Linked DNA regions of Homo sapiens: region 1 is linked to region 2. Evidence: fine-mapped expression QTL. A gene starts in region 2. The other region holds a variant in brackets. All regions are shown on one strand. Distances are between the middles of the regions.

Region 1 (5,378 bases), 51 kb after region 2:
ATTATTCTCTGGACTCCTAGGACAGTGTTAACTCCACAACTAAACTAAAATGTTAATGGAAACTGGAAATAAGGCCCAAAGCTGAGTTGAGCAGGCTGGGATTTTGTTGTAGCTCAGTCTCAGTTGCTTTATGTGCATCTTTAAATGGCCTTCAGATGGAACCGTCTGGCCATTTTAAGCAGGAAGCCTATTCATTAGAGAACCACATGGCAGGTAATCTACTTTGGCTGGTTAACTTAGACCTTTCACTCACACGTGGTCAGCTTCAGTTGGATGAAGGCAGCAACAACTATCTAAGGGTTGAAAGGTTGGAGTACTAGCCTGGCTTACTTTGCAGGAGTGACTTCTCTAGAACTGCTAGCATGTCAGATCAGCTCAAACATGAGGTCATATGAAGAGGTGGGCAGATTGAAGTCCGACAGGCTTCCCCACTGCTTTTGCCCCAGGGTGCAGATATTAGAACAGAGGCTACCACTTGTTTCTGTAGAAGAAAAACTTTGTCCTTCATTTTCTGTGCCTCCAAATGTCACTTAACCTCCAGAAGAGTTGTGTTGGTAAACATAATGAAGGGATTAAACTAGAAATGAATTTTGACAGTTTATAGTGAGAGCTTCTGATTTCTGTCATGTGGAACTTCATGTCTGTAGCATTTCAGTATTTGAAGTTCTTAATATTGTTGCAAATATAAAATGAATTGGGGAGAGATGAACCTCTCAAACATGTTTTGTTTTTTCAAGAAATCATATCTACTGTTCCATCTGTATTTCATGTAGAGGTGTATTTATGTATCATTTACTTGAGAAAACACGTAAAAACAGACCATTTTAAAGCTAGTCCGTGTCTGGTTTGTCGCCACATCAAATATGCACATGTAATGAGTTGTCTGGAACTCAGGCCTTTCCCTACAGACGCGATTTTTGCTGGTGGCTAATTCTCAGGTCAGCCTTCAAAGGTTTGCATAACCTCAGTGCACACCAGTGAATTCTAGGATGGAGAATTACCACTGATGACAATGGTTTTATAGGAAAATGTACTCTGAATTCTTGTCGCCCTCTGTAATAGGAGGAGTTTGCTGCTTTTTTTCCTCTCTTTGGGCCTCAGGCGTTGTGTTCCGTGGACTGGGCAGGCTGTGGTGGTAGGGAAGCGGGGAGCTTAGAGATGAAGAGTATATGGGACTCCTGAAGTAACGGCAAAGGGAAATGCATTGAGATGTCAGGATGAGGGAGAAGGCTTTGACGTGGGTCCCCGGCGGGGGCTGCAGAATCAATGAACCTCTCCAAACCGGTCCCCAAACACTGGCACCTGGATGAGAAAAGGAGCAGAGCTGAGCACTTTTTCTCTACCCTCTTTCTGCCAGACCTCCTGTTCTACTATTACAGGCCTTACTATTGACATCTGGCAAAAGAGAACCAGTAGAAAGGGAAGTGTGTGAGAACTGCAGGTATAGCACCTAGGAGGTCATCTTAGAAATCTACTGGAGCAAGAGAAAGAACAGAGAAAAGGGGAAGTCCCCATTACCCTCCGAGCAAAGAAGCTTCCTTGCTACTGAATGTGGCTAGAGCTGTACCCCACCCACTCTGTCTGCACTACTGTGCAGTTGTTCCAAGGTGGTTGTCTGATTTGACTGTGAAGAGCCTGGATAGTTAACATGTGTTGGGTCTGGGTGGTGATACATCAGTGTGTGTTATCTCACTCTATATAGCCTTACTTTGGAAGTATTTCATGGTGATAATAGACAAAGCTAGTGGGTTTTGTGTGAAGAGAGTCTGTTCATAGGAAAACATGATCTGTTCATCAGTCTAGCTTGGCAGCTAGCTAAATAAACCACGTGTAACTCAATGGCTCATAGAGCTTTATTATTACCATAGAGATTTATGTTACCACAGGGGTATAAAAAGTATTAATGAATTAACAGAAGGTCTTTTATATTTCATTTATTACATCTCTTAGCAGACTGTTTTTTACTGTAAATGTGAACACACAGTTTTCCACTTCTTACTTGTTCATAGTTTTCTCGACAAAGAGTAGCTGCTTTTCTTAAAATTTTCCAGTTTTGTAGTTTAACCAATAATAGTTTCAGTGACTTCATTACATTAACACCCAATTGATACATAAACTTCAGAGGAGTTTGCCTTAATCAGTATGTTCATTGCTTTTTAAATTTTTTTGTCTTTCACAAAGATAGAAATTCAGTGCAGTTGTTTGTTTATTGGTTTAGTTTTTCTGGGCTACAAACATCTTAATTTCTTGATAGGCCAGTTGTAATGTGTGACTAAGGACTATATTCTTCAACCATTGCATTTGAAGCAATGGGCAGGTGTGGGATTTGGAAGCAGTATGAAAGTAACATCATTTGTTT[C/T]TGCAGACTTTGTAATTTTCTTCTGGAAAACCCAGATTATCCAAAGAGAGAAGACAGAATCATTATAAATCCCAGTAGCAGTCTGCTGGCCAGCCAAGATGAGACAAAGGCAAGTGTCATGTTCATGTTTTGCAGTCACTGCCTGGAAATGCTGTGCTTTGTTGTTGTTGTTGTTGTTGTTATCTCTGTGGGAAGAAAGTGCTTTGTTGGGACAAGTTTTTAAAGACTAGCCGAGGGACATAGGATTTCAGAATATATCTATACTTCAGTGCGATCTCCCAGTCTGAGCCACTTTGAATTCTGTCTGTCTTTAACTTCTATCTTTCCTTGTAATTCTTATCTTCCTTTTCCCACAAAGAATTGAACGAATTCTCCATATCTTTAATCCTACAAAGCAAATTCCTAAAGCAAAACAAGAATTGGCCAAAACTCTTAACATTTTATTATGAAAATTTTCAAACCTACAGAAAAATTGAAATATTTTACGTTGATCATTTATATACCTACCACTGGTACTAGTTAACAGTTTACTGTATCCTCTTTATCATACATATGTCCTCTGTCTGTCCATCAGCACAACTTTGTTATGTTTCATTTCATGATAATGCATTTCAAAGTAAATTGCAAAAACATGAGTACACTTCCCTCTAAGTACTTCAGCATGCAGGTCATTACCCAGAGTGGAATATCTTTTTTCTTTTGATGTGAGATTTGTATACAGCGTATACTATACATCTGTTTAACCAGATCTCATATCAAGATGTAAACAGTTTGGTTTTTAAAAACTTCAATCATTGTCATTATTTGTGATCTAAACTGGCATTTAGTGTGTTATATGGTCAAGTATGGTTGAGAACTAACTTTATTAAGATCTGTTGCTTGATCTTCCAACTCCCCATAGATTCTTTGACTGTCTCTCTTACGTATTCTGTAATAGAAAAAAAATAGTTGTTCGTAAATATGGTATGGAAAGAAGATGGCTGTAAGATTGGTTTAAATCCCCAACTATACTTCTTTAGTAGTAAAACTAGTCTGTCGGCTCCAGACAGGTTTGTTTAACCTCTCTGAGCCACCGTTTTCTCATCTGTCTTATAGGGCTGGTAACTTCCTTATAGAGTAATTAGAACAAATGTTATTCTTTTCTACACATGTAATTCTTAAAATGATTTCCCCTGTATGGGAAATGTACTGCCTGGCCTCTGATTTTATGCTTCTCTCTCATTTCAGTTGCCTAAAATAGACTTTTTTGACTATTCTAAATTGACCCCTCTTGACCAGCGCTGCTTCATCCAAGCTGCTGACCTCCTCATGGCCGACTTCAAAGTGCTCAGTAGTCAGGACATCAAGTGGGCCCTGCACGAGCTCAAAGGACACTATGCAATCACCCGAAAGGTACTCTACTTGGTCTTCCTGTTGGGGTCACACCTCTTGACTACATCTTCCCATGGTAACAGAATGAACAGTTCAGCTTGTGGAAATTGGGATGGTTTATGATTGCTAAGGAATTTATTAGGGTGAAGATAAATAGATGGGTATTTGCTCATCGTGACGGACTAAATGAAAAGAAATAATAGATAGATGAGAAGCAGAGAAGTTCTGCTTTGACCGTAAAAACATGGAGTGTAATACCTTCTACTGTGGAATGCAGGAGTGTGAAAGATGCATTCTAATGCTGCTCCTTCCTGATTTGCTTTCCAACTTGGGACAGGTCACACGACCATCCATCCCCCAGGTGGCTCAGTTACCAGTGATAGGACGTAAGGTCTGTAGAGAGTCCGGGAACACAGCAGTGCCCCCTCAGAAGAGAGTGGGCAGCTACTGACAGCTCCCAGCGTTCTCCCCGCAGGATCCTAAAATAGATGGCACTTAAAGGCCTTGGTTGAGGGTGAGGAGGGTGCTGGTTTGTGGTGGGTAACACAGGCGTCTTCCATGAAGGACAGCACACAGTGCCTGCTTTGTAGCTGTGGCCAGAACAGGAGCGCACGCACCAGCAGAGACCTTGGCTTACTCCTCTTGGTCGCTCTTACTGCCGTTAAATTGTATTCTACTGAAATTCTTGTGATTCTCAGCAAACACAGTGATGTTTCTTTTGTCCAAAGGACAAACGTGGAGTTATCGTAGTGGTTAAAATACTCATTGGGTCTTACCTGTAGGAAGGGAAGAACCAAGCCAAGGACTGTGGCTCATGCTAAGGTCTAGGCCAAGCCCCTTCCACCTTTTCTTTTTCTTTTTCTTTTTCTTTTTTTTTTTGAGACGGAGTCTCACTCTGTTGCCCAGGCTGGAGTGCAGTGGCCTAATCTCGGCTCACTGCAGCCTCTGCCTCCCCAGTTCAAGCAATTCTTCTGTCTCAGCCTCCTGAGTAGCTGGGACTGTAGGTGCTCACCACCGCGCCTGGTTGGTATTTTTAGTAAAGATGGGGTTTCACCATTTCGGCCAAGCTGGTCAGCAACTCCTGACCTCAGATGATCTGCCCACCTCAGCCTCCCACAGTGCTGGGATTACCTACATGAGCCACCGTGCCTGGCCAAAAAAAAAGACTGAAAGAAAAATAGAGGGGCTTTGAAAGGGTAAAACGGGAGGCAACCTAAGGTAGACCAAGGGTCTCCAGAAGGGCCACCCTGAGGAAGGGACATTTAATCACAGACCCACATAGGAGTTTGGTGAAAGGGGTCGTGGAAGATGTTAGTATCATTTATTGGGGTGAGAACTAGTATAAACATCTGCTTTGGAGAGAAATAATCACGAATTCAGTCTGGGAAACGTTGGTTGCCAATGTGCTGAGAAGGGCCTGTGAGACATCTGAGTAAAAATAATTCATTGGGAGGTTGAATGGACTAGAAAGTTTGGAAAATACAGACTGTAGATAGGATTTTTTTTTTTAATCTCCTTGGGTTTTATGGTGATAGGACTTTGAGAGTCATCAGCATATGGAAAATCTCACCAGCCAGGATGAGGTACCCAGAGATACCAGGTGAGAAGAGAGGACTCCTGACATGCAAAGACCAAGCGGAGGAGGCAG
Region 2 (5,378 bases):
GGCCAATGCCTTTGTTTTACCTTCCAGGTGATTCCAGGATCTCATCTCAGGTAAGTATCTATCTTAAACTCTCTCTCCTGTTCACCCTCTAATGTCTCCCATGCACTGCACCCTCTAACTCAGGGCCTGACATCTGTAAGATCCCTAGATCCTCGTCCTGTTCTGTAAGCAGCCCTTCAATTTCTACTTCACTGAAACATGACTATTCCCTCAGGACACTGTTCCCCAAAGCACTATGAGTAGTGGTCTTTTTCTGTCCCATGCAAGCCCCCATAAGCCACACTCTACTGTCTTAGAGAAGGAACACTCATTGCCGCATCAAGACTATTGTTCCTCTCATTTCCCTGTTTTGTTTTTGTTTGCTTCTTTTGAGACAGGCTGTTGTTCTGTCATCCAGGCTGGAGTGCAGCAGTGCAATCATAGCTCACAGCAGCCTCGGACTCCTGGGCTCAAACAATCCTCTGGCCGGGTTTAGTGGCTCGCTCCTGTAATTCCAGCACTTTGGTAGGCCGAGGTGGGTAGATTACCTGAGGTCAGGAGTTCAAGACCAGCCTGGCCAACATGGTGAAACCCTGTCTCTACTGAAAATACGAAAATTAGCCGGGCGTGGTGGCACATGCTTGTAATCCCAGCTACTCAGGAGGCTGAGGCAGGAGAATCGCTTGAGCCCAGAAGGTGGAGGTTGCAGTGAGCCAAGATCGTGCCACCGCACTCCAGCCTGGCTGACAGAGTGAGATTCTGTCCAAAAAAACAAAACAAACAAAACAAAACAAAACAAAAAAATCCTCCCACCTCAGTCTCCTGAGTAGCTGGGACTATAGGTGCGCACCACCATGCCCGGCTAATTTTTATTTTTGTAAAGATGGGGTCTTACTCTATTGCCCAGGATCGTCTCAAACTCCTGGCTTCAAGCCATCCTCCCACCTCCATTTCCCAAAATGTTCGGATTCCAGGTATAAGCCACTATGCCCAGCCCAGACTCATTTATCTAATTACTGACTTGATATCTCTACTTGAAGGTGTACTTGGCAATTTTTTTTTTTTTGAGACACAGTCTCACTCTGTTACCCAGGCTGAAGTGCAGTGGCATAATCACTGCACTACAACCTCCCCCTCCTCGGTTCAAGCAATTCTTGTGCCTCGGCCTCCCGAGTAGCTCGGATTACAGGCACGCACCACCATGCCCAGCTAATTTTTGTATTTTTAGTAGAGACGGGGTTTCACCATGGTGGCCAGGCTGGTCTCGAACTCCTGACCTCAAGTGATCTGCCTGCCTCGGCCTCCCAATGTGCTGGGATTACAGGCGTGAACCACCACGCCTGGCCAGCAATTATTTTAAGAGTTGGGGTCTTGCTATTTTGCTAAGGCTGGTCTTGAACTCCTGGCCTCAAGCGATCCTCCTGCCTTGGCCTTCCAAAGCGCGGGGATTATGGACATGAGCCACTGTGCCCAGCAGGAGCAGTATTTTAGTCAGTTATTCACTTGCTCACTAAAACCTAAACTTCCTGAGGCCAGGAACACATTTTACTTTTTTTTTTTTTCGAGATGGAGGGTTGCTCTGTTGCCCAGGCTGGAGTGCAGGGGCGCCATGTTGGCTCACTACAACCTCCGCCTCCCAGGTTCAAGTGATTTTCCCGCCTCAGCCTCCTGAGTAGCTGGGATTACAGGCATCCGCCACCATGCCTGGCTAATTTTTTTATTTTTGGTAGAGACGGGTTTCACCATGTTGGCCAGGCTGGTCTCCAACGTCTGACCTCAAGTGATCCACCCGCCTTGGCCTCCCAAAGTGCTGGGATTACAGGCGTGAGCCACTGTGCCCAGCCATGGGACCCACTTTACTCTTAATTTCCCCAATTCCTAGAACAGTGTGTGGCCCACAGGAAATCCGCAGAATATATTTGCAGAATGAATGAATGACTTGCCAAACGAATTAGGGCAAATCAGTAGATATCGAGTAAACATCCACAACCACCTGCCCCATACCCTTTTCAGCTCTGGGGAGATGGTGGCTCCTTGTGGGGTCGGATATGGGGGTCTCCTTTCCTTTCACCCTCCTGCCTCGTGGGGGAGTCAAGTCTCCGCAGGCGGAGAGCCCGGATGCAGGCGCGACTAGGCGGCCCTCTCTATGGTGAGCCCCCCGGTCCCTCCTCCGCAGTACCCGGAGTGCCTCTATGGTTCTTCCTGTCCTTAGTCGGGAGGGGGCGCTGTGCGCAGGCGCGAGGTGACGCCGCGGCAGGGCCGGAAGGAGTGCAGCGGCTGCCACGGAGCTCGCAGCTGCGGCTTCTGAGGAGTAAGCGGCGCGGTAGCGAAGGCCGCCGAACCTGCCTGGCTAGCCGGCGACTTGAGTGACGAGTGAGTGTCGGCTGCGGGGCGCGCTCGAGCTCCTGGGCGGGTCTGTGAGGCGACGCGGCCTCTCTGAGGGGCGCCTCTGTGGAGCTCCGGGGGTGGGGGCGGGGGCGCGGGCCGTGAGGGCCGCCGAGCTGAGGGGCGCGGGCCGAGGCCCGGGCGGGATCGGGCCAAGGGGCTGGGCTGGGCGTCTCGAGCCCGGTGCGGTGGCGAGGCTGGAGCGACAAAGGCGCTGAGCGGCCGGGTGGCCCCCTCTCGCCACTTCGCGAAGTTTCGCGGGCCGGCCCCTCGGGTCTGCTGCGCGAGGGCAACAGCCCGGGAGACCGCGCTTCCCTCCCCCGGGCCCGAGGCCGCCGCGGAGGCGGTGTCCGTGCACCCGAGCGCGGCCTGGAGGAGCGGCGGGAGGCGGGCCGTGCCTGTGAACCCCAGCCCAGGCGGGCGGCGTTTTTCCTCCTCTTCCCTCACATCTGGAGCGCGTGTTCCGCGAAAGTTGGCGACTGTCACCCGGCACTCGCGAGGGCGCCGCAAGTGCGTCAAACCCTTCTGCGGGGCGCTGGGGGCTGGCCCGGCTCGGGTGTCCGGGCGCTGGGCAGCGAGCGAGGCCGCTGTCCCCGCGTCGAGGTGGTTCTGCTCCCGGTGGAACAGGACCAGGGATCCAAGACTCTGGGCCACTTGCAACCAACCCTGGAGCGTGCGCGGCGTGCGGGTTACAGAAATTTCTGACAAATCCGACAGGGCTCTGTAAATCCCTAAGGGCCTGGGTAGCAGCTGTCCTAGGTACTTAGATCGTGCAAAGAGAACGTTCTTTTTTCTTTTACTTTTTTTTTTTTCTCCTTTTCTTTGAGACGGAGTCTTGCTCTGTTGCCCAGGCTGGAGTGCAGTGGCGCGATCCCGGCTCACTGCAAGCTCTGCCTCCCGGATTCAAGCGATTTTCCTGCCTCAGCCTCACAGGGATTGCCTCAGCTGGGATTACAGGCATTTGCCACCACGTCCAGCTAATTTTTGTATTTTTAGTAGAGACGGGATTTCTCCGTGTTGGCCAGGCTGGTCTCTAACGTCTGACCTCAGGTGATCCCTCCGCCTCGGCCTCCCAAAGTGCTACAGTCTTTTCAAAAGACGTTTCAGATATGTTCTCCGGGACCCTCGGGCCCTTCAGTAAGAAGCGCCCTGGCTGAAAACCCACACGTTCACCTACAGAAGAAGCACTGTGACGTAGAGGGTGAGCAGAGCAGAGGGCCTCACAGTGGCCCTCACATGCACCTGGCTCCAGCCTGGCCAGGTCATTTTGCCCTGGTGGGCCTGTGCCTCAAAAATGGGGTTTCTTCCCTTGTGAGGAAGACCCATGAATTAGTAACGGAATTGCCAGGAATGCTAAAAACTATCTAAATGCCATGTATTGTTTTCAAGCTGTTACTCCTGGAAGGGGCTGGGTTGGCATTGTTTTAGAGGTTAGGAGCCAAACATCAGCTCATCTATTCTCCAGCTGTTGTTTGTCCTCCATCTTCCTGCAATAGTCAGGCACAGGGTCTTATAAAAATGGGTTTGTGCTGCTGTATGTTTCGGTGGGTACCTTTGTTTACTGAATGGGATGTAGGTGGGGGACCAGAGCATATCCGCGTCCCTCGGAAACAGTGGCGTTTTAGATGTAGTATGTCCCGTCAGCTCCTCTCTGCCCCACCCACCCCAGCCCATTCATTGAGCATTTTTTTTTTTTTTTTGAGGCGGAGTCTGGCTGTATTTCCCAGGCTAAAGTGCAGTGGTGCCATCTCTGCCCACTGCACCCTCCGCCTGCCAGCTTCAAGTAATTCTCCTGCCTCAGCCTCCCGAGTAGCTGGAATTACAGGCGCGCACCACCACGCTCGGCTAACTTTTTTTTTTTTTTTTTTTTTTAAGAGACGGAGTCTAGCTGTGCTGCCCAACTCCTGGGTTTAAGTGACCCTCAGCCTCCCAAAGCACAAGAATTACAGGCTTTAGCCACCGTGCTCTGCCAGAACATTCTTTACGCGCTGAGAAGGGAGAGAAGCGGGAAGATTCTATGAAACATCTCAATTTAGTCGGCTTGCTTTAAGGAAGAAGGCTAATACATGGCCTGGCTTTGCCTTGGTTTTGTATTTCATAATTTATTGCGCCTGGGGTGTGGGGAGTAGTGGTGGATTTGAGGAAATGCCTGGAGAGTCTGGGCCAGATTTTGGACCCCCTGGCAAACCTCATTCGAGGCTTTAGATTTTTACCCTGATTAGAGCAGCAGCAGCTAATAAAAGAGAACTCCTGAAGCCCCTGTGGAGAAATCTGATAAAGAAGGGTTAGGTGTGAGTGAGGCAGATCGAAAGTTGATGAATAGGATAGTTGAGAGAGCTGGTATTTGCTGATTCTACTACCAGCTACTATTTAATGTGTTTACAAAATTCTAGGCATTGCTATATTCTAGCTCTTTAGAGACATAATTCATTCTCATACCTGATATCATTATATTTGCATTATTGTTAAAGATAATAGAACATAGTTGGGAATGGTGTGGCTCACGCCCGTAATCCCAGCACTTTGGGAGGCCGAGGCGGGCAGATCACCTAAGGTCAGGAGTTCGAGACCAGCCTGGCCAACATGGTGAAACCCCGTCTCTACTAAAAATACAAAAATTAGCCAGGTGTGATGGCGTGCGCCTGTAATCCCAGCTACTGGGGAGGCTGAGGCAGGAGAATCACATGAACTCGGGAGGCGGAGGTTGCAGTGATCCGAGATTGTGCCACTGCACTCCAGCCTGGGTGACAGAGCGAGACTCCGTCTCAAAAATAATAATAATTTTAAAAAAAGAAACTGAGGTGCTGAAAAATATCTAGTCCCAAAACTTGTAAGGGTCAGCGTGGAACTTGAACTCAGTTTGGACCCAGAGTTCATGCCACTAATTATCCTTCTATAATTAGTGAGTGCTATTTATTCTGAAAGTACATCTACTATTGAAGATCATCTACTGTGCCATCCGATATGCTATGTCCTGGGGCTTTGGGATCAAGTGACACTTTGGTTCTGCCTTC

Alleles and levels. Positions count from the first base shown, and alleles are read on the strand shown. Sizes are in standard deviations (SD) of each study's normalised expression.
For the expression in testis of the gene that starts at base 2,230 in region 2, T is the high allele of the variant in region 1 and C is the other (small effect, 0.30 SD a copy in GTEx).

The links. PIP is the estimated chance that this variant, and not a neighbour inherited with it, causes the effect. A credible set is the group of variants that fine-mapping cannot tell apart.
Region 1: its variant is the best candidate, but not a certain one, in a credible set for the expression of RNF216 in testis (GTEx, PIP 0.81).

The regions. Positions count from the first base shown.
Region 1 is chr7:5,727,805-5,733,182 of GRCh38, reverse strand. It overlaps RNF216 (ring finger protein 216), which reads left to right. Exons shown (of 17, transcript NM_207111.4): 6 at 2,366-2,468; 7 at 3,587-3,751. Among named protein-coding and RNA genes, the nearest start is that of MIR6874, 19 kb to the right of the region's middle. The variant C/T (reference allele first, on the strand shown) is at 2,360.
Region 2 is chr7:5,778,515-5,783,892 of GRCh38, reverse strand. RNF216 (ring finger protein 216) reads left to right here and starts at 2,230. Exons shown (of 17, transcript NM_207111.4): 1 at 2,230-2,352. RefSeq lists a silencer at 2,432-2,821.